Linked DNA regions of Homo sapiens: regions 1 and 3 are each linked to region 2. The links come from fine-mapping of genetic effects on gene expression. A gene starts in region 2. Each other region holds a variant in brackets. All regions are shown on one strand. Distances are between the middles of the regions. Region 1 holds the start of NCBP2AS2 (NCBP2 antisense 2 (head to head)). Region 2 holds the start of PIGZ (phosphatidylinositol glycan anchor biosynthesis class Z (Gwada blood group)). Region 3 overlaps SENP5 (SUMO specific peptidase 5).

Region 1 (7,525 bases), 24 kb before region 2:
CTAAAGTAGTAACTAAAAGTGGTAGAAGTGCAAATCATGCCTGGCACTTAGGCATCCCAGCACTTTGGGAAGCCCCAGGCAGGTGGATCGCTTGAGTCCCAGAGTTCGAGACTGGCCTGAGCAACACAGGGAGACCCTGTCTCTACAAAAAATTAGCTGGATGTGGTGGCGCGAGCCTGTGGTCCCAGCTTCTCAGGAGGCTGAGGTGGGTAGGATCACTTAGGCTCAGGAGGTTGAGGCTGCGTGAGCCGTGATTGCGCCACTGCACTTCAGCCTAGGCAATAAAGCGAGACTCTGTCTCAAAAAATAAAATACATTAACTGAATAAATTTTTTTTTTTTGAGAAGGAATATCGCTCTGTTGCCCAGGCTGGAGTGCAGTGGCGCGATCTCACAGCAACCTCCACCTCCCCGGTTCAAGCGATTCTCCTGCCTCAGCCTCCCGAATAGCTGGGATTACAAGCGCCTGCCACCACGCCCGCCTAATTTTTGTATTTTTAGTAAGACGGGGTTTCACCATCTTGGCCAGGCTAGTCTTGAACTCCTAACCTCGTGATCCACCCGCCTCAGCCTCCCAAAGTGCTGGGATTACAGGCGTGAGCCACCGTTCCCAGCCTTGACTAAATAAATCTAAGAGCTTCCCTAATTTAGCGTCAAACAAAATTTCCCTTTCCCTACTCTAGTAACACATTTCACACATTCTCCACACTTACCCTCTGCTATATGCGCCCCTTCCTTTCCCAGTCACAAGGGGATTTTTCCCTTTTCTGAATCCTCACTACAGGGGATTATGAGCTCGCAGAGCGCAGAAACTGTCTTCCCTCTCCCTCTAGGGTTTAGCACAAGGATTTGGCGACAGCACTCGATAAACGTTTACTAAATAATTGGGTTAATGAGTCCCGCCCCGCCAACCCCCAACCGTATTCCATCCCTACCTCCGCTGATACTGAAAAGTCTACTTTGAATATCTGCTGCCTCCCCTTTTTCCACAAAATATACTGTGATATAGTCCGGACTAAAAATTTCCCTCTTCTGAAATCCAGCAATTCTCCGATCTTTACATCCGAACACCCTCAAAGTGCCGAGCTTGGCGGGTCCACCTCCCCACTCCGAAGCTTCCCCGAGGGCGGAGTGAGGACTCCACTTGTGTCTCCCACGCACCGCGTACAGCTTCCGTAACACCATCCTCCCAGAGAAGGGGCCCGAATCGCCGAAGGGCACTGCTTCGCCGATTTAAAAAACAAAGCAAAAAGCCCCGCATCTGCATCAGGAAGGCGCCTCTGCCTACTCTGGGAGAGAGAAGGGCACCCCTCCCCCTTGCTACGTAGTCGTCTGCGGAGGCACAACCGTGGAAACGGGAGCCGCCACCACCACCACCGCTCAAACCTCTCGGCACTGGCTGGGGTACAGGGAGCGGCTGCGAGCGAATGGGATAAGCGAGCCTCCAGTTCCCCGTCTTCCAGAGCAAGTGGCTTCAGTGATATCCAAGCGCCCTTCCAGCACCCATTCCCTGCCTCGCCAGCAGGCACCGGGGCCCCACTTGGCGTTTGCGGATTTCAGCTGAATGGGAGGCGACACAATGAGACAAGAGCAAACCGTTTCTCAGCGTTCTTGCCCAGGGCCTTCCCGTCTCGCGGCCCGGCCTCCCTCACCCGGAAGTGCTGGTCCCGGTACTGGCTCAGCTCCACGTAGGAGTCGCTGCGCAGCGCCTTCAGGAGGCCACCCGACATAGTGCAGAGAAGCGGACCACAATGCGGCGACTCCCGGCACGAGGCTGCGTCCGCGATGGCGGAAGCGGAAACGCGCGGAGGCGAGCATCTCATTGGACCCAATCCGAGGGCGGCGTGTCGTCATCAAGCTGCGCGGGGGCATAGACGTCCGGGTCGGGCGCCGCGGGGCGGAAGACGAGGGCGGCGAGGTCGGGTTCCGGGCGCTTGGAGAAGATGGTGCTGCGGCGGCTGCTGGCCGCCCTGCTGCACAGCCCGCAGCTGGTGGAACGTCTGTCAGAGTCGCGGCCTATCCGACGTGCGGCGCAGCTCACGGCCTTCGCACTGCTGCAGGCCCAGCTGCGGGGCCAGGACGCGGCCCGCCGCCTGCAGGACCTCGCGGCTGGGCCCGTGGGCTCCCTGTGCCGCCGCGCTGAGCGATTTAGAGACGCCTTCACCCAGGAGCTACGCCGCGGCCTCCGAGGCCGCTCGGGGCCACCACCAGGTAGCCAGAGGGGCCCTGGCGCAAACATTTAATCCTGGGCTGTGCGGGGCCGAGGCCGCTTGCTTTTCCTTCCGGGCTCTACAGTGGCATCAATGTGGAGGGGTCATTCCGGGCACTGCGCGCGGCTTCGAATCCCGACTGGGATTGTTGGCCTGCAGACATCCCACGCATAAGAGCCTAGGCCAGACCGCCCGCTCCGTTGAAGTCTTGTGATTGGACAAGACACAGTGTGGAGACAGCCCTAAGCCTAACAGAGATGAAGGTAGGCTGGGTCCAGACACGGCACCTACGGAGAGCCACGGACCGAAGCCAGAGAGCCTTTCCTCTGCAAGTGGGACTGAAACTCTTGACAGATGCTGCTCAATCTGACTGGTATAGCAGGACAGTTAATTCCAGGGACGATATGGATGAAAAGACAACCCTACAGCTGCCAAATTCCTTTGATTAAATGTGTGAGCTGGTTGATAGGCATGAGTGTGATACTTCTCAGGCAAGATGTGTTAAGAATACCGGGGACTGTAGGCCTATGGTAATAATAAACACGTATTTTATGAAATGAGTCTTCTGTGCTGGGACTTGCTCATTGCACTCTATGTGTTATCTCACTCCTTACAACGACATTCACATGAGGAAGCAGATTACTTTTTGGATTTTTTTGTAGAGATGGGGTGGTCTCGAACTCTTGGGCGCAAGTGATCCTCCCGCCTCAGCCTCCCAAAGTGCTGGGATTATAGGCAAGAGCCACTGCGATGGAAACAGAGGCTGCTGCTTAAGTTGCCCAAAGTCTTGCAGAGTGGGATGTGAGCAGAGGCATTTGACTCCAGGGCCTAAGTCCTTAACACAGCTCTGCAGCATTTACCCTGATACTCAACCCCTTCCTTCCCCAACCCCCCACCATCAGGCATTAAGACTACTGCCTAGGGGCAGGGCCTGGTGGCAGTTGTGTCTTATCCCAGCCACTGCAGAGGCAGGAGGATCGCATGAGCCTGAGATGAGACCAGCCTGGGTAGCATAGCGAGAACCTTTCTCAAAAAAAAAAAAAAAAAAAAAAAAGACTACTGCCTGCCATGGAACAAGTTACCTGGACTCCTATCCTGTGGGGAAAAGAGAGATCAGATTGTTACTGTGTCTGTGTAGAAAGAAGTAGACATAGGAGACTCCATTTTGTTCTGTACTGAGAAAAATTCTTCTGCCTTGAGATGCTGTTAATCTGTAACCCCACCCCCAACCCCCTGCTCTCTGAAACATGTGCTGTGTCCACTCAGGGTTAAATGGATTAAGGGCGGTGCAAGATGTGCTTTGTTAAACAGATGCTTGAAGGCAGCATGCTCGTTAAGAGTCATCACCACTCCCTAATCTCAAGTACCGAGGGACACAAACACTGCGGAAGCCCACAGGGACCTCTGCCTAGGAAAGCCAGGTATTGTCCAAGGTTTCTCCCCATGTGATAGTCTGAAATATGGCCTCGTGGGAAGGGAAAGACCTGACCGTCCCTCACAGCGTGACACCCGTAAAGGGTCTGTGCTGAGAAGGATTAGTGAAAGAAGAAGGAACGCCTCTTTGCCGTTGAAACAAGAGGAAGGCATCTGTCTCCTGCCCGTCCCTGGGCAATGGTGTAAAACCCGATTGTATGTTCCATCTACTGAGTTAGGGGAAAACCGCCTTAGGGCTGGAGGTGGGACATGGGGGCAGCAATACTGCTCTGTAAGGCATTGAGATGTTTATGTGTATGCATATCTAAAGCACAGCACTTAGTTCTTTACCTTGTCTATGACACAGAGACCTTTGTTCACGTGTTTATCTGCTGACCTTCTCTCCACTATTATCTTATGACCCTGACACATCCCCCTCTCCGAGAAACACCCAAGAATGATGAATAAATACTAAGGGAACTCAGAGGCCGGCGGGATCCTCGTCTGCTGAATGCCGGCCCCCTGGGCTCCCTTTTTTCTTTCTCTATACTTTGTGTCTCTTTCTTTTCCAAGTCTCTCCTTCCACCTAACGAGAAACACCCACAGGTGTGGAGGGGCAACCCACCCCTTCACTACCCCTCATTTTAGAGGGTCAGGGATACAGACAGACTACGATCCAGCCAGTTAGCAGACCTGCGATTAGGAAATCCATTGTATATAGAAATGTCCTGTCATTTGAAGCTCCTAGCTAAATTTCTGATTTTTTTTTTGAGACAGGACCTAACTCTTGCCCAGGCTGGAGTGCAGTGGCACAATACTAGCTGTCACTGCAACCTCGACCCGTTGGGCCAAGCGATCTTCCTCCCTGGGACTCCCAAGTAGCTGGGATTACGGGCCCATGACACTATGCCCAGCTAATTAAAAACTTTTTTTCTGTTTTTTTT[G/T]TTTTTTTGAGACGGAGCCTTACTCTGTCACCAGGCTGGAGTGCAGTGGTGCGATCTCGGCTCACTGCAACCTCCACCTCCCGGGTTCAAGTGATTCCCCTGCCTCATCCTCCTGAGCAGCTGGGACTACAGGTGCGTGCCACCATGCCTGGCTAATTTTTTGTATTTTAGTAGAAACGGAGTTTCACCACGTTGGCCAGGATGGTCTCGATCTCCTGACCTTGTGATCTGCCCACCTCGGCCTCCCAAAGTGCTGGGGTTACAGGTGTGAGCCACCGCGCCCAGCCACAATTTTGTTTTGTTTTGTTTTTGGTTGAAATGGCATTGCACTTTGTTGCCCAGGCTGGTCTTGAACTCCTGGCCTCAAGCAGTTCTCCTGCTTCCGCCTCCCAAAGTGCTGGGATTACTGGTGTGAGCCACCACACCCAGCTCTGATCATTTCTAGTTAGGCAGCACAGTTAATCATGCAATCTAGAAAGCTTGAAGCCATCGGAAAAATTGAGGCTGGTAACCAGACACTAGCTGAGTGTTGTGTGTTCTCTGCCCTCTGGGGCAGGATGGGAGGGCTTGAGACCCACAGTTCTAAGGAGGAAGAACACCTGGCTCCCTAATCTGGGAAAATGACCCCCTTTTTTTTTTTTTCCCCCAAGACGGAGTCTTGCTCTGTCTCCCAGGCTGGAATGCAGTGGCTCTCGGTTCACTGCAACCTCTGCCTCCTGGGTTCAAGCAATTCTCCTGCCTCAGCCTCCTGAGTAGCTGGGATTACAGGTGCGTGCCACCACGCCTGGCTAATTTTTATATTTTTAGTAGAGATGGGGTTTCACCATGTTGGCCAGGCTGGTTTTGAACTCCTGACCTCGAGATCTGCCTACCTTGGCCTCTCAGTACTGAGATTACAGGTGTGAGCCACCATGCCCAGCCAGGAGAATGACTCTTAAGGACAAGGTGCAGAAATGGCTGGAGAGTTTCCCACCACCTCTCAGGAACAGGAGTAAAAGAAAGTAGGGAGAAAATCTCCAGTGCTATTATATATTTCAAACATTACTTGTTTGCATAATAACCAAACACTGAGACAGCAGGCATCAGAGTGCCATGAAGTACAACACAACTCCCACTTCCATGCTTGAAGAGCTTTGTGAGAGCTGTGCCTGTTGAGGCAGGGGACGTGTACTGTGGACTCCAGGAATGACACAATGTTAGCCGGCAGACACCTCAAAGTTCCTCTGATCCCAACAGACTGGGAAGTGGGGTGGGTGAGTGGAAGGAGCTTTCTCAAGATCACACAGCGAGGAGGTGACAGACCAAGGGGCCAGAAGTTGGGTCCCCTGGATCTGGGCCACCTGTTCTCTATACTTCGTCTCACTGACTTGCACATATTTCGATAGGCAGATGGGTCTTAGGAAGCCAGAGGGTTGTCATGACAGCAAGGGTAAGGCATCATGGGAGGTTTGGGAGAGGTCATTGAGGAATGTCACTAGCAGTTCATTGTCTTTTTTCACAACCAGGTACTATCACATATTTCAAACATCACAGTGGCTGGAAGCAACAGGGCAGGAACAGACAGGTGTCGTCACTTAACCTGGTCTTTGGGGACCTTGACATCAAGACCGACAGGTCAAATCTTTGGTCTCAGGGAGAAGAGTGCCAGCTCACCCAGAAGGCAGAACAGCTAACAGCCATGCCCAGGAGAGGCAGCAGTGGGAGTCATGAAGGAGGACGGGGTCCTGTCCCAGCGTCCCAGCCCAGCTACCCAAGTAGAAGGTGGGGCGGCATCTTCTATGGCTGAGTCTTGGGCAGTGGGTGCTCTGTCATATTGTCAGGTTTCTTCCCCCAGCTCCACAATGTGAAGACTGAGGTGGTCCCTCCAAGCCCCACTCAGCAAGGAGGACAGGGCTGGTGGATCCTCCAGGGTCAGATGGGGAAATAAAAGTGTTTCATTCTTGAAGGGGAAGCTGCACTTCTCCACGGCACGCCTGGTGGTGCCAGGGGTTACCACAAAGAGGCGGCAGAGCCATGGCCCACCAGCCACTTGGCAGGCTGGTTGTCTGGTGAAGCTTTTCAGGGTTTGGCACAGGGCCCAGTCCTCAGTCCCCCCCATGTCCACCACCTCCACTGGTGCCCCCAGGCCTGGGAGGTGTAGGAGGTGCCGGGGGGGCATGTAGGTGTGAGTGAAGAGGAGTGTGTAGTGGGTGGGTGTGCTTGGGAGCACAGGGGCATGGACCACCTGCTCCAGGTACTCCAGGCCAGGCACCAGGCCCCCCTGATGCAGGCAGCCGAAGAGGAGGGCACCGAGGGCGTTGAAGAGGACCACAGTGCCCTTCCAAGGCACAGGCTGCGTCTGTGGACTACAAAGCAGGACCAGGGGGACCAGGAGGGGAATCAGGAACCGAGCCTCCTGGTGGCTAAAGGCAGATAGCAGGGCCAGAGGCATGAAGTAGAGGAGAAGGAGATAGGACCTGGGGCTGGACAGCAGGCTCCGGGCACCCAGTGCCCTCAGGAGGCCCATTTGTGCAGAGGCCTGGAGGCCGACTTGCAGCCGTTGCCACGCAGCCTGCAGGGCCTGGGCATGCAGCACCCCGAAGAGCAGGAAGCCGTTGACTGCCAGGTGAGTGAGCCGCGCGTGCGTGCCATGTCTCGCCAGGTTTTGGGGATTCAGGTTGTAGTGCAAGAAGTTGACAGGTGTCAGGACAAGGTTCCTGGATGTAGCGGGGCTGGAGAAATACCAGCTGTCCGTGGCCACAAACACCGCTGCTGTGAGGGCTGCCCCAGGGAGCAGCACCAGGGCCTCCCGGGTCAGAGACTTCAAACCAGGGTTTGTGGCTCCACGAGTGCCCCAGAGGTAGAGGGGGACCACAGCAAAGGCCAGAAAGGTGGGCCGGTTGAAGAAGCCAGCAGCCACAATGCCTCCAAGAAGCCAGCTGCGCCACCGTGGACCCGGCGCCGGCTCCTTGCGTGTAGG
Region 2 (9,299 bases):
TTCTGAAATTGCTTCTTTTCTGAGCTTCGGATTTACTGATAATAATAAGGAATAGTATAACAATAATAATAGCACTACCTTTTTTTATTTGTTTGCTTTTATTTTTATTTTTATTTATTTATTTATTTATTTTGAGACGGAGTCTCACTCTGTCGCCCAGGCTGGAGTGCAGTGGTGCAATCTCAGCTCACTGCAAGCTCCACCTCCCGGGTTCACGCCATTCTCCTACCTCAGCCTCCCAAGTAGCTGGGACTACAGGCGACTGCCACCAGGCCGGCTAATTTTTTGCATTTTTAGTAGAGACGAGGTTTCACCATGTTAGCCAGGATGGTCTCGATCTCCTGACCTCGTGATCCGCCCACCTCGGCCTCCCAAAGTGCTGGGATTACAGGCATGAGCCACCGTGCCCGGCCTAGCACTACCATTTTTTTTTAATTTTTTTGAGATGGAGTCTTGCTTGTCGCCTAGGCTAGGTGCAGTGGCACGATCTTGGCTCACTGCAACCTTTGTCTCCCAGGTTCAAGCGATTCTTCTGCCTCAGCCTCCTAAGTAGCTGGGACTACAGGCACGCATCACCACGCCTGGCTAATTTTTGTATTTTTAGTAGAGATGGGGTTTCACCATCTTGGCCAGGCTGGTCTCAAACTCCTACCTCATGACCCACCTGCCTCGGCCTCCCAAAGTGCTGGGATTACAGGCGTGTGCCACCGTGCCCAGTCTAGCACTGCCATTTATTAGATACATATTACCTTCCAGGCTTTGTACCTTATCTTATTTAATTATGGGAAGTCTATAACCCTATCCTTTTTTTTGTTTTTTAAGACAGGGTCTCACTCTGTCACCCAGGCTGGAGCGCAGTGGCATGATCTCAGCTCATTGCAACCTCTGCCTCCCAGGCTCTAGCAATCCTCCCACCTCAGCCTCTATGAACCTATTCTTATCCCTGTCTTACACACAAATGAACAGGCTTTTTGCAAAAGGTAACGGAACTACTAAGTTGGTGGAGCTGGAAGATGGACCCGGTCTGTTTGACTCCACTGCCCTGCTCCACTGCCCGTTAGGCTTCTGTACCTGCTTCAAACACAGGGCAGCCCAAAAGAACTCATCACCTTCCCTGGAATGAGCCCTGTCCCCATGCTCCCTACAGCAATGAGGAAACTACCATGTATTAGTGTCCCACACTCCTGGTACCAATTTACTGTGTTAATCTATTCTCACACTGCTATAAAGAACTGCCCAAGACTGGGCAATTTCTAAATAAAAGAGGTTTCATTGACTCACAGTTCTACATTGCTGGGGAAGTTTCAGGAAACTTACAGTCATAGCGGAAGGGGAAGCAGGCACCTCTTCACAAGGTGGCAAGAGAGAGTGTGAGTGGAGGAAATGACGGACGCTTATGGAACCATCAGATCTCATGAGAACTCCCTAACTATCCGAAGAACAGCGTGGGGGAAACCACCCCATGATCCGATCCTCTCCCACCGGGTCTTTCCCTCAACACTTGGGGATTACAATTCAAGATGAGATTGGGGCGGGGACACAAAAGCCTAACCATGTCATACCATTTGCCCAATTTAGTCCAGAATCCCACGGGCTATCTCCCTCCTCCTTTGTCCCTGCACTACGTAATGCCAACGTTGCTTGCTAATTATTCCTTGAACCCAGCTCTTGTTCCTCATTCTCCACTGTCATTGTCTGAGTCCAGGTATGCTGTGACTGGTGTGCATGTACCTGGGATTTCTTAGCCTTAGGGGTGGCTGGCTGTGCAGAATCTTTGGATGGCTGGAGGCCCTGGGTTGGTTGTTTCTGTTTGCAAACAGCCCCCTCCTTTGTTAACCAGTGTGTCATATAACAGCAATCATTTTCTGTGGATGAATAATGAGGGAGATGGTAAGAAGCATGACCTGGAGTAGACTGCACCGCCATCCGCCTCTCCACTTTCCCTCTCTCACTGCATCCTTCCTTCTGACTGCGGCAGAGACAGGCCGAATCACTCCCCTGTGAGAAACCTCTGGATGGGGGGCCATCCCCTCACCACCCTGAGGACCAGGTCCACATTCCTTACTGTGGCTGACAAGGCCCTCCATAGCTTCCAGTGTCCCCTTCCCGCCTCCACTCCTGTGTTCGTGAGTAGAATTCGGTGCTCCAGAAACATCACGCCTTTCTGCAGCCCTCTCCTCTATTCCGTGCTGTTTCTCACCCCAGCTTCTTGGCTCACACGGTTTCACTTACCCAATACGCTAATAACATGGAGGTTAAGACCAGCGGTGGCATCAGGTAACCCGGTTCAAGTCGTTGCTCTCTGTCACTTGTTCATGGTGAAAGCACTCAATCTCTCTGAACCCCAATTTATACCTCAGCTTTAAAACAAGTACCTATCTCAGGGCTGTTGTGAAGATGAAATGAAGAAAATATGCAGACATAAGTGGTTGCTTTCTTTATCCATCTTGCTTAACTGCCCTAACCCCCAAGAAGTCTTCCCTAACCCTCCTTCTGAAGGACCCTGTGCAAAACTCTGCAGGCGCCATGCGCTGACTGTTGTCTGATTATTTCTCTGCCCTGCTTGGCTGAGGTCTCCCAGGCATGGAGTCCCTTTGAGATTCATCTCCAGCCTGGGTGGGCCCACTGGGGCCCATCTGTCAAGGACAGAGCAGGAGGTCCTCCGGAGAAGGTGACAACGTAGTGGGGCATCGACCATAACAAATGCGGGAGCTCCAGGGAACGACCCCCGCCCGCTGGCGTCTCTCCAGTCTGAGACCCCACTGGAGGAGCTGTCCATGTGGCTGCCTCTCGCCTTTTATCCCAGGGGACAGAGCCAACGCCAAGCATGGCAACCACCCACCTTAACCTAATCAGGATGCAGCCTGCTCATTAATTCATTCATTCATTCAGAGGGATCTGTCCGGGTGCGGGTCCAGCACGGGTCCAAATCCTGCATCTCCAGTAGCCTCCTGGGGGTCGGTCGTCGGGAGGGCTCGTGAGCGGAAGGCTTTAGGATGAAGCGACAGGGCCCAGAGTCGTGGAGATTGGACTGGGGGGCAGGGGAGCAGGCATTGACAACCACGCCGACAGGGGCATCCCGCGCGCCTGTGTGGGAGAATGTGTAGGGCAAGCAGCAGGGAGAGACCATCTCAGAGACAGGGGAACAGCCAAGCAGAAACCACTGTGCTGGGCGCGGGGGGAGGCCGGGAAAGACAGCACATCTGCGGGGCGGGAGGAGGGGAGGGAAGGGAGTAGAAACACTGCTCCCGCCAGCCGCGGGTGATGGGGACACGTGTCCAGCTCGCTGAGTCCGAGGGCCTGGGCCCGCTTTGGGTGCCCTGTTTCTCCGGCGCCCAGGTGTGTGCGCAGAACCGTGTCTGCTCCAGGGACAGCCGTGAACGAGCGCCGTCCGGAGTGGCAGGGCCATCAGGTGTGGCTCATTCCAAGAAAGGTCCGTACCTTCACATGTAAACTTCCTGGCAAAGCTGCTGGGTTGCCGCTTATGGGAGAAGGCGGCGGGCCCAAGGTTCGGCCCCTTTGTCTGAATCTGGCATTTGGAGCAGGCTTTAAGACTTCGGGAAAAGCCGGGCCCCTGTGCAACCACCAAAGGCTGCTTCTCCCGCCCTCAGGACTAAGATCTTGTTCCAGTCCTCCAGTCCTCGGGGTCTACTCCAGGGGTACAAGGTGAGAGTGGCTCTCCAGAGTCCATTTGCCTTTTGGTGCCGCACTGCATCCTCACTTTGACCCTGAGCGCTGCAGTAAGCCCTGCAGGGTGCTCCACCTTGAAGCACGGGAAGATCTGATGCTGGCCGCCTTCTTCCTTCGGTTGCCTGAAAGGGCCCGTGTTTATCCTTCGCTTCACAGAGAACGCAACACACAACATTAAACACACATAGAGAGTGAAAGAGAACAAGGCATCTTCATCAAGGAGGGCGCACCATTTAACCACCCGCGACCTTGCAGTGCGCCTCTGCAAAGTGGGGACTCCGCTCTGTAGCAGGAGATGGGGGTGTTGACGATTTTGAAAGTAGTTCTCAGTTTTCCGAGGCAAAGGTGTCTGGGGCTGACGAATGACTTTTGAGAAGAAGGAATGATGAGAAATGTCCTCATTACAGAACTTTCCCGGCCACACTGTGAGTCCCACGCAAAGACCCCATGACCACCAACCGGAGCGCTGGGTGCTCCCTGGCAGGGTCACCTTTGCTTTTTGCGCGCCCCCATGCCACCCCTGGGGCAGGAGGCCATCCTCTTATCCTGGGAGTGCAGGCCTGGCCCGAAGTGCAGCCCCCGAGGCCGGGAGCCGAGATTCTTCTCGGCTTCGTGCTCAGAGCTTTGCAGCGTGGCATGGTTTCCTCCTCTTGCCCTGTTGCTGTTTCATACCAGGGGGAACTGAGACCCAGTCGGGTTATGGGCCTCCCTGAGAACACTGGCCTCTAGCAGAAGCAGATTCAACCCCAGGCCTCAACCTGCGCCCAGACCCGTGCCCTGGAGTGGAGTTTACCCACTGCCGCCCTTCCTGGGCAAATGTCACCGCTGCCTCCGTCCCCCTAGGTCCGGGGCGGGTCAGTGCTTCGAGCCAGCGGACCCCGGCCTAGGGACAGGTGCCTGCGAGAATGCGGGGGGCGGCCCCCAGCTCCCCTGCCCTCCTCCCTAGAGGCTGGGCCTGCTGGTCTCCCGGCTGCGCGCAAGGTGGGAACGCGGCCGACTTGGTCCGCTCGCCCTCCCCGCACCCGCTCCTCTGGAGCCGCTGGGGCTGCGCACCGACTCACCCGCGCGGCCTCCGGGCTGCGCCTTCAGCGCTGGCGGCGTCCTGCCCGGCGAGGGCCAGGGTCCCAGGAGGCCCCGGAGGCGGCGGGACCGCAGGGCGGAGGGGAGGCCGTGGGAGCGGCCGGGCGCGCCTCAGCAGCGCGGAGACTGGGGCCGCCGCCGCCGGCGCAGGGCGGGCCGGGAGGGAGGAGGAGCGCGCGGGCGGGGCCGCCGTGTACGTCCCCGCGCTCCCGCCCGGCCTGGCCCCGCGGTCCCGGAGCGAGCTGGGGCCGCGCTGGGGAGGGTCCTGGGGGCGCCGCCGTCCCTCGGGCCGGGCAACGCCGGGCGGGGACCGGTCTCGCCCCGCCGCGCTCGGGCTCCCTCCCCGGCGGCCCCTCCTCGGCGAACAGCCTTTCGGCGCGGGGGGCTGTTAAACCAGACACCCCAGGCCACACTCCTCTCGTTCGAAATGACCATTTCGGGGTTCTCCGTGGCGGGGAGCTCCGCCGCCGCCGTCCCCCTTCCACGCGCGGGAGGTCGGCGAGGGCAGGGCGGGGACCCGGAGTGCGGCCCCCGGTCCTGCTTCGTGGCCCGAAACGCCTCGCAATGGAGTCACTCATGACAGGGGACTCAGCGCACGGGGCGGCTGCTGAGCCCCGCAGCGATCGGCGGGCGTGAGGGGTTCCCCGGCGTGGTTGCCCGGGAGCCTGTCAGCCCCAGCAGCCCTGACAGGAAAGGGAAGTCGAGAGGAGGCTGAGCGAACGGCCGCCACCCCCGCGGGACGCTGACCCGGGCGGACCCCGAGGGGCCTCTCCCCGCGCCAGAGCGCGGCGTGCGCGGGGAAGCGCGACCCACCGGGGTCGGCGACGGCGCGCGGGGCGGGCGCGGCGGTTCCCTCTCCTCCGCCCGTGCCCGTGGGATCGGCGGGCTTGTCGGGCTGGGAGAGCCTCGTGGAACCCGGGCATCCGGGCAGCAGCGGCCTCCGAGCCACTGTGGAGGCGCCCGGGGTCGGCACGGCGAGGCCGACGGGGACCTGACACGGTCACGCGGCGCCGGGGAGCAGGTTCGAGTGGCCGGGCGTGGCCGTGCTGCCCCTCCGCGTTCCGCAGGCGGCGACGGGCGAGCGGCCCTAGCGGGCTGCAGGGAGGACGCCGCGTGGACGGAGAGCCGGCGCCCGGGGGCCAGATCCCCTCCCGGGACGGGGCGCCAGGTCCCCGCGAGCTGCGGCGCGACGCGCGGGCACCCGTGTCCCACCCGGTGGCCTCGCCGCTGCGGGCTGCGCTGAGAGCGGGGTGGCGCGACGCGGTCCCTCACCGCAGGGGGAAGACGGCACCACCGCGTCCCGGCCGCTGGAGCTTCCCGCCCGCGCCGCCGGCCCGACGCTGCCCCCTGGCGGGAGAGCGCTGCAGGGGCCCCGGCGAGGCCGCAGGACCCGACCTCCCCGCCGGCCTCGCACTCCCGCGCCGCCGCCGAGGGTCGGCAGCCGGATCGCCCTCCGTGCCCCATAGCACCCCTCACACTAAAAACGACGACTTTATTAAGATGTGAGGTATTCTATACATACGATAAATACCAGGAAATTTAAGTACAGTACATGGAAGTATACAGTTCCATGAATTTTTTCCTTTATTTTTTAGATACAGGGTCTCTGTCGCCCAGGCTGGAGTGCGGTGGCACGATCTCGGCTCACCGCAGCCTTGAACTTCTAGGCTCCAGCGATCCTCCTGCCTCAGCCTCCCGAGCAGCTGGGACCACAGGCCCCGCCACCATGCCCGGCTCAGTTCCATGACTTCTGACACGCGAAACCACCAGGCTAGTCTCCCCCCGAGTTCAAGAAGTCCTCTCCTCCCAAAAGTACCCTCCTGCCCCTCTGCAGCTAACCCCTCACCTCCCCTCCGCCCTGGTTCCAGACAACTGCTCCTCTGATTTCTGTCACTGCCCTTTGCCTCTCTCGCAATTGCATGCAAGGAGAACCATTCACCGTGTGGTCTTTTGTGCCTGGCTTTCTTCGCTTGGCACCATGCAGCTGAGCGTCGCCCGTGTGGCGTGTGTGTGTTGTATTTTCCTCTACCTTGGTCTTGAGACCTCCCTGGAGAGCCACTGTAAAGGCCAACTCTGCCCTGACAGGGCTCCTGGGATTTGGGCGTGGGTGTTTGCCGTGGGCCTTTCATGGGGCACCTCTGTATCCTGGCTGACCTGTGACCGGGTGTCCCTCTCCCAGGAGACATATTTATCCTGGCAGATCTCCTTGTGCTTCTTGTCTGACCTGTATCTAGTTTATTCCTACCAAGATAGCTGCTCTCTAGGGAAAGCCCTGACCAGGGAAAACGTTACGTTTGAGCGTCTCAGTCAGGCATGACACAGAGCAGGCAACACAACGAAACACAGGAACTAACAGAAGTGGTCCTATTACTTACAGATCCACAGGGGAAGAGGGCACACTGAGGGCCGTCGGGAATGTCTTGGGGACACTGTACACAATCGTTGTGGGGGTGGGGGGAGCCAGAGAGAGACGGACCTGTGGGCTGAGGCTTTTATTGGAGTGCAGGGCATTACTCAAGCAGTTTTCCCAAGGGGAGCTCTAATTGGTTCACCTAGAGGAGCGAACTGGAGTCCTGTGGGGCCACCTTGTGACTTAGGGGTGGTCACTGAGACATATCTGCATAGTCCATGCAGGGTGTGGGCGTCAGTGGGGTGAGTCTAGTTGGTTGTATGTATACATCCCACAAGGAGGCAGTTACCAGGAGGTGGCTACCTAGGACCAGATATCTGGACGGAATGTGTTGAGATACTGTTTCCAGCAGAGAGCTGGAAACTGTATCCAAGGTGACTAAGCCCTGCTTCTAGTATGAAATTGTTAACCCTATATTCAAAATGGATACTGAAGCAACCTAAAATTTCAGGTATTTACTAAAGTGTGTATCAAGTTCCCTCCTTACCACTGGTGAGTAGTATTCCATTGTATGGATATGCCACAGGCTGTTTGTCCATTTGGACATTGATGGATGGACTAAAGTTGGCCAAGCTGGGCTGGTGGGGAGGCACCCTCTCAGGACCCCAAAGGAGGATGCGGGGTTGTTGTTGGATGTCTGGGTTGTTTCCAGTTTGAAGGCATTGTGAATAAAACTGACTTGAGCCTTCCTAGAAAGTTTTTTGAATATACATATGTTTCATTTCTCTCGGATAAAATGCCTGGAAGTAGGCGGGATGGCTTGGTTGCATGGTGAGTCTTTTTTTAAAAAAATTTATTTAATTAATTAATTAATTAATTTTTTTGAGACGGAGTCTTGCTCTGTAGCCTAGGCTGGAGCGCAGCGGCACCATCTCAGCTCACTGCAAGCTCCGCCTCCCGGGTTCAGGCCATTCTCCTGCCTCAGACTCCCATGTAGCTGGGACTACAGGCGCCTGCTACCAAGCCCGGCTATTTTTTTTGTATTTTTATCAGAGACAGGGTTTCACTGTGTTAGCCAGGATGGTCTCGATCTCCTGACCTCGTGATCCATCCGCCTCGGCCTCCCAAAGTGCTGCGATTACAGGCGTGAGCCACCACACCCAGACTTTTTTTTTTTTTTTTTTTTTTGGGATGGAGTCTCGCTCTGTCGCCCAGGCTGGAGTGCAGTGGTGCAATCTTGGCTCACTGCAACCTCCGTCTCCTGGGTTCAAGTGATTCTCCTGCCTCAGTCTCCTGAGTAGCTGGGATTACAGGCTTGCGCCACCACACCCAACTAATTTTTGTATTTTGGGAGAGATGGGGTTTCACCATGTTGGTCAGGCTGGTCTTGAACTCCTAACCTTGTGATCCATCCGCCTTGGCCTCCCAAAGTGCTGGGATTACAGGTTTGAGCCACTGCGCCTGGCAGCATGGTAAGAAATTGTTTTTCAAAGTGGTCATACTATTTGACATTACCACCAGCAATGCATGAGAGCCCATAGCATTCTATGGTTTGTCTTTTCATTTTCTTTTTTTCCATGAGACAGGGTCTCATGCTGTCTCCCAGGCTGCAGTGCAGTGGTATAATTGTAGCTAAATGCAATCTCGAACTCCTGGGCTCAAGTGATCCTCCCACCTCAGCCTTCTGAGTAGCTGGGATGATAGGCACACGCCACTATGCCTGGCTAATTATTTTTATTTCAATTTTTTATCTTTAGTAGAGATGAGATCTCGCTATGTTGCCCAGGCTGGTCTTGAACTCCTGGGCTCAAGTGATCCTACTGCCTCAGCTTCCCAAAATGCTGGGAATACAGGTGTGAGCCACCACACCCACCTGTTTTTTCATTTTCCTAATGTTATCTTTCAAAGAGCCAAAGTTTCTAATTGTGACAGCGTCCAATTTATTAAACATTTTCCTTGATTGCCTACCTTAAGGTAAGGTTGCAAATATTTTCTCCTATATTTTCTTCTAGAATTGTATAGTTTTGGCTTTTTGTTTAGGTCTATGATACACTCAAACTAACTTTATGGGTGGTGTGAGGTAAGAATCAAGGGTCTTATTTATTTATTTATTTATTTATTTATTTAAGATGGAGTCTCATTGTCTCCCTCTCCCTCGCCCTCGCCCTCGCCCTCGCCC
Region 3 (5,000 bases), 75 kb before region 2:
TGGATGGTTACTTCTTTTGGAGGGAAAAGGGATAGATTCCTGTGCCGCAAAACATTCCAGATGGATTAAAAGTTTGGCTAATTAAAACCAAATACACAGAAATGTGTACACGAATGCTTGTAACAGCATTGTTCATAATATCCAGAAAGTGAAAACAACCTAAATGTTCAACACCTGATGAATGGATAAATAAAATTTGGTATATCTATACAATGGAATATTATTCTATAAAAGGAATAAACACCGATATATACTTAAATGTGGATGCACCTTGGAAGCATGCTAAGTGAAAAGCCAGACACAAAAGGCCTTATAACATATGATTTCGTTCATTTGAAATGTCCAGAATAGGCAAATACATAGAGATATAAAGTAGATTAATAGTTGCCAGGAGCTGGGAAGAAGGGGAATGAGAGGTGACTGTTAATGGGTATAGAGTTTCTTTGTGGGGTAATGGAGGTGTTCTGGAATTAGGTAGTAGTGATAGTTACACAATCTGAATATATTAAAAAACAGTGAATTGTGTTCTTTAATGGGGCAAATTTTGTGGTGTGTGAATCACATCTCAATAAAGCTGTTAAAAAGAAACAAATATAGGCCGGCCATGGTGGCTCACATCTGTAATCCCAGCACTTTAGGAGGCTGAGGCAGAAGGATCGCTTGAGGGCAGGAGTTTGAGACCAGCCTGGGCAACATAGCGATATAAATACATAGAGGGATGTATATAGATTTAGCGAGACTCTATTGCTACAAAAAATAAAATTATCTGCATGTGGTGGTGCATGCCTGTAGTCCCAGCTCCTCAGATGGATGAGGTGGGAGGACTGCTTGAAGCCAGGAGTTTGAGGTTGAAGTGAGCTATGGTAGCTCGACTGCATTCCACGCTGGGTGACAGCAAGACCTTGTCTCTCTCTTTTTTTTGAGACGGAGTCTCACTCTTTCTCCCAGGCTGGAGTGCAGTGGCGTGATCTTTGCTTACTGCAACCTCTGCCTTCTGGGTTCAAGCGATTCTCCTGCCTCAGCCTCCGGAGTAGCTGGGACTATAGGCATGTGCCACCACGCCCGGCTAATTTTTTGTATTTTTAGTAGAGACGGGGTTTCACTGTGTTAGCCAGGATGGTCTCAATCTCCTGACCTCATGATCCACCTGCCTCAGCCTCCCAAAGTGCTGGGATTACAGGCGTGAGTCACCGCGCCCGGCCGACCTTGACTCTTAAAAAAAGAAAAAAAAAATACAGGAAATCATTCTTTTTAAGTTTTTGGTTTCTTTGTTTGTGACAGAGTCTCCCTCTGTCTCCCAGGCTAGAGTGCAGAGGCGTGATCTCAGCTCACTGCAAACTCCGCCTCCCGGGTTCAAGCGATTCTCGTGCCTCAGCCTCTGGAGTAGCCAGGACCACAGAGGTGCGCCACTATATGCCTGGCTAATTTTTTGTATTTTTAGTAGAGATGGGGTTTCACCATGTTGGCCAGGCTGGTCTTGAACTCCTCACCTCAAGTGATCCGCCCGGCTTAGCCTCCCAAAGTGCTGGGATTACAGGCATGAGCCACTGTGCCTGACCTAAAGATTATTTTTAATTGACAAAATTCTATATATTTATGGGGTACAATGTGATGTTTTGATATATGTTTACTTTGTGAAGTAAATCAAGATAATCAGCATATCCATCACTCACTTCGTCGTGAGAACATTTAAAATCAATTCTCATCTATTTTCAAGACACAGTACATTATTATTAACTATAGTCACCAGACTGTACAATAGATCTCTAGGACCACTTCCTCCTGTCTAACGGAAGCTTTATGACCCTTGACCAACATCTTCCAATTCTCTGCCCCACCCCCAGCCCCTGGTAACTACCGTTGATTCTCTACGTCTATGAGTTTGACTTTAGATTCCACATGTAAGTGAGATCATGCAGTATATTTTTTTGTGTCTGGCATATTTCACATATTATGCTCCAGATTCATCCATGTTGCAGATGACAGGATGTTTTAAGGCTGAATTGTATTCCATTGTGTATATATACTACATTTTCTTTCTCCATTCATCCACTCATGGGCATTGAGGTTGATGCCATGTCTTGGCTATTGTGGATAGTGCCGCAGTGAGTATGGGGTGCAGGTACCTCTTCAACACACTGATTTTATTGTCTTTGAAATACACTCAGAAATGGAATTGCTGGATCATATGGTAGTTCTATTTTTAATTTTTTGAGGAACCTGTATACTGTTTTCCTTCATGGCTGTGCTAATTCACATTCCCACCAACAGTGTACAGGGTTCCCCTTTCTCCACATTCAAGTCCTTTGCCTGCTTTTTAAATTGGGTTATGTTCTTGCTATTCGTTGTTTGAGCAGGAGACCATTTTTATAATCTTATATTGATAAGACATTTTTGCCCATAATAGGAAGCTCAGAAGCAATGAAAATATACCAAATTGACTCTACAGACATTTAAATCTTGTGTGCATGTGTGTGTGTATAGCAAAAGTTAGATGAAAATTTAAAAATTTAGATATGCATGCCCTTTTACCCAGAAATTTAACTTGTAGTAGGTGTGTCCAAGGGAAACAGTAGAACTAGGATAGATCAAGAGTTTTAATTGTTACATTATTTAGAGGTAAAAATAAATGGCCATCAGTAGGGAATTGGTTACAATACAGTATGCATTTTTTCAGGCAAAAGAGAACTGTCCATGATATAGTGAATGGAAAAAAGCAGCTTCAAGAAGAGTAAGTTTAGGCCGGGCGCGGTGGCTCATGCCTGTAATCCCAGCACTTTGGGAGGCCGAGGTGGGTGGATCACCTGAGGTCAGGAGTTCAAGACTAGCCTGACCAATATGGTGAAACTCCGTCTCTACTAAAAATACAAAAATTAGCCAGGCATGGTGGCATGCGCCTGTAGTCCCAGCTACTTGGGAGGCTGAGACAGGAGAATTGCTTGTACTTGTGAGTTGGAGGTTGCAGTGAGTTGAGATCGCACCACTGCACTCCAGCCTGGGTGACAGAGTGAGACTCTGTCT[C/CA]AAAAAAAAAAAAAAAAAATTTAGTGTGTTTAAGAAATACATGTTCAAAGGGCTTGAAAGTCCAGAAGGAATTATGGGCTCACTGCCATTTATTTAAAAATATTTATGGTCGTGTATGAGAAAAAATAACTACTTAAAAGGTTGTTTCCACATATAAAGTAAATGTTTATAAAAATGTCCAACTCTTTTTTTCTAGATATTAATGTGGTTTTTTTTTTTTTTTTTTTTTCTGGAGACAGAGTTTTGATCTTGTTGCCCAGGCTGGAGTGCAGTGGCGTGATCTCGGCTCACGGTGGCCTCCACTTCCTGGGTTCAAGCAATTTTCCTGCCTCAGCCTCCCGATTAGTTGGGATGACAGGTGCCCGCCACCACGCCCGGCTAATTTTGTATTTTTAGTAGAGACAGGGTTTCTCCATGTTGGTCAGGCTTGTCTCAAACTCCCAAACTCAGGTGATCCGCCCGCCTTATCCTCCCAAAGTGCTGGGATTACAAATGTGAGCTACTGCCCCCGGCCTAATGTGTTATTTTTAATTTAGTGCTTTGGAAAAAAGTTAAGGTAGATCCTTACCTCATTCTTTACACCAAAATGAATTCCAGCTGTTAATAAAATATTTAGTTGCGAGTTCTTTTTTTTTTTTTAAATTTATTCCCATGGGTCTGGGAACCAATGAAATTAGTTGGTAGTTCTAATACTGTTTATTGAGTGATTTGCTCTTTTCCCTGTGGTTCAGAAATGCAACCTACCACAGAGTCTCTTTGGATTTGATCTCTATTCCATGCTGGCTCTATTTGCCTTAATTAGCGTAGTTTTATCATTTGACAGGACCTGGCGCTCCTTATTCACCTCTCTCCTTTAATTCTTTTCAAAAATTTCTAGGAATTTCTCACATTTTTGTCCCAAGGTAAATTTTGGATTTATTTTGTAATCTTTTAAAAAAGTATGGTTTTTACTTGTTGTTGCATTATATTTATAGATTAATTTAGGGACAGTTGCTTTCATTGCAAAAGACTTCCTGTCCCTTAGTCATATTTCGCATCTTTTCACTTAGGTTTTGCGCATTGCTTATGTTTGTTCTTAGATACTGTATACCTTCCTTACTGCTGATGGGCCCGTTCTGAGGTATGCACTGTGTTTTGTTGGAGAACCATGTGCTTGCATTTCTTACGTGCACAGCACGGGGAACCTCATTCCACATCCAGGGTGGAATGTGACCCAGGTCAGTTGCATCAAACGAAAACTGTCCAGTGCCGTTAGTTTAACATGATGGCTACTTTTAACTTCTTTTTTTTTTTTTTTTTTTGAGACGGAGTCTTACTCTGTCACCCAGGCTGGAGTGCAGTGGCATAATCTCAGCTCGCTGCAAGCTCCGCCTCCCATGTTCACGCCATTCTCCTGCCTCCCGAGTAGCTGGGACTACAGGCGCCCGCCACCATGCCCGGCTAATTTTTTGTATTTTTTAGTAGAGACAGGGTTCCACCATGTTAGCCAGGATGGTCTCGATCTCCTGACCTCGTGATCCACCCGCTTCGGCTTCCCAAAGTGCTGGGATTACAGGCGTAAGCCACCGCGCCCGGCCTTACTTTAACTTCTTTTTTTTAAAAAGTTCTTTTTTATTTTTTCAGTTATTTTTGAGGCAGGGTCTCGTTCTGTTGCCCAAGTTGGAGTGCCGTGGTGGGATCTTGGCTCACTGCAGTCTTTGCCTCCCAGGCTCAACCCATCCTCCCACCTCACCCTCCCGAGTAGCTGGGACTACAGGCATGTGCCAACATGCTTGGCTAATTTTTGTATTTTTTGTAGAGAAGCGGTCTCACTTTGTTGCCCAGACTGGTCTTGAACTTCTGAGCTTAAGCAATCCTTCTGTCTCAGCCTCCCAAAGTGTTAGGATTACAGGCATGAGCCACCGTGCCTGGCCGGGTACTTTAAATTCTAAAATGACACCTCAGGTTTTGTTTTTTATATTACTACCTTTTGTACTTGC

The links.
Region 1: its variant is fine-mapped to the expression of PIGZ in whole blood (TOPMed, PIP above 0.99).
Region 3: its variant is fine-mapped to the expression of PIGZ in lymphoblastoid cells (TwinsUK, PIP 0.95).

Annotation. Positions count from the first base shown.
Region 1 is chr3:196,940,775-196,948,299 of GRCh38, forward strand. NCBP2AS2 (NCBP2 antisense 2 (head to head)) reads left to right here and starts at 1,900. Exons shown (of 1, transcript NM_001355243.2): 1 at 1,900-2,769. The coding sequence starts at 1,943. The coding sequence ends at 2,242. PIGZ (phosphatidylinositol glycan anchor biosynthesis class Z (Gwada blood group)) reads right to left here. Exons shown (of 3, transcript NM_025163.4): 3 at 5,582-7,525. The coding sequence ends at 6,383. NCBP2 (nuclear cap binding protein subunit 2) reads right to left here and starts at 1,754. Exons shown (of 4, transcript NM_007362.5): 1 at 1,652-1,754. The coding sequence starts at 1,729. NCBP2-AS1 (NCBP2 antisense RNA 1) reads left to right here. Exons shown (of 3, transcript NR_046630.1): 2 at 200-368; 3 at 1,619-1,760. RefSeq lists enhancers at 1,086-1,759, 1,218-1,457, 1,488-1,627, 3,108-3,781, 7,310-7,525 and 3 more. The variant G/T (reference allele first, on the strand shown) is at 4,567.
Region 2 is chr3:196,963,936-196,973,234 of GRCh38, forward strand. PIGZ (phosphatidylinositol glycan anchor biosynthesis class Z (Gwada blood group)) reads right to left here and starts at 4,898. Exons shown (of 3, transcript NM_025163.4): 1 at 4,752-4,898. It overlaps LOC124906255 (collagen alpha-1(I) chain-like), which reads left to right and starts at 5,198. Exons shown (of 3, transcript XM_047449439.1): 1 at 5,198-5,314; 2 at 5,461-6,277; 3 at 6,366-7,876. The coding sequence starts at 5,198. The coding sequence ends at 6,276. RefSeq lists enhancers at 4,475-5,010, 5,011-5,546, 5,547-6,082 and silencers at 4,618-5,067, 5,128-5,337, 5,348-5,407, 5,518-5,577, 5,688-6,007 and 1 more.
Region 3 is chr3:196,890,888-196,895,887 of GRCh38, forward strand. All of the region lies in intron 2 of SENP5 (SUMO specific peptidase 5), which reads left to right. Among named protein-coding and RNA genes, the nearest start is that of SENP5, 25 kb to the left of the region's middle. The variant C/CA (reference allele first, on the strand shown) is at 3,022.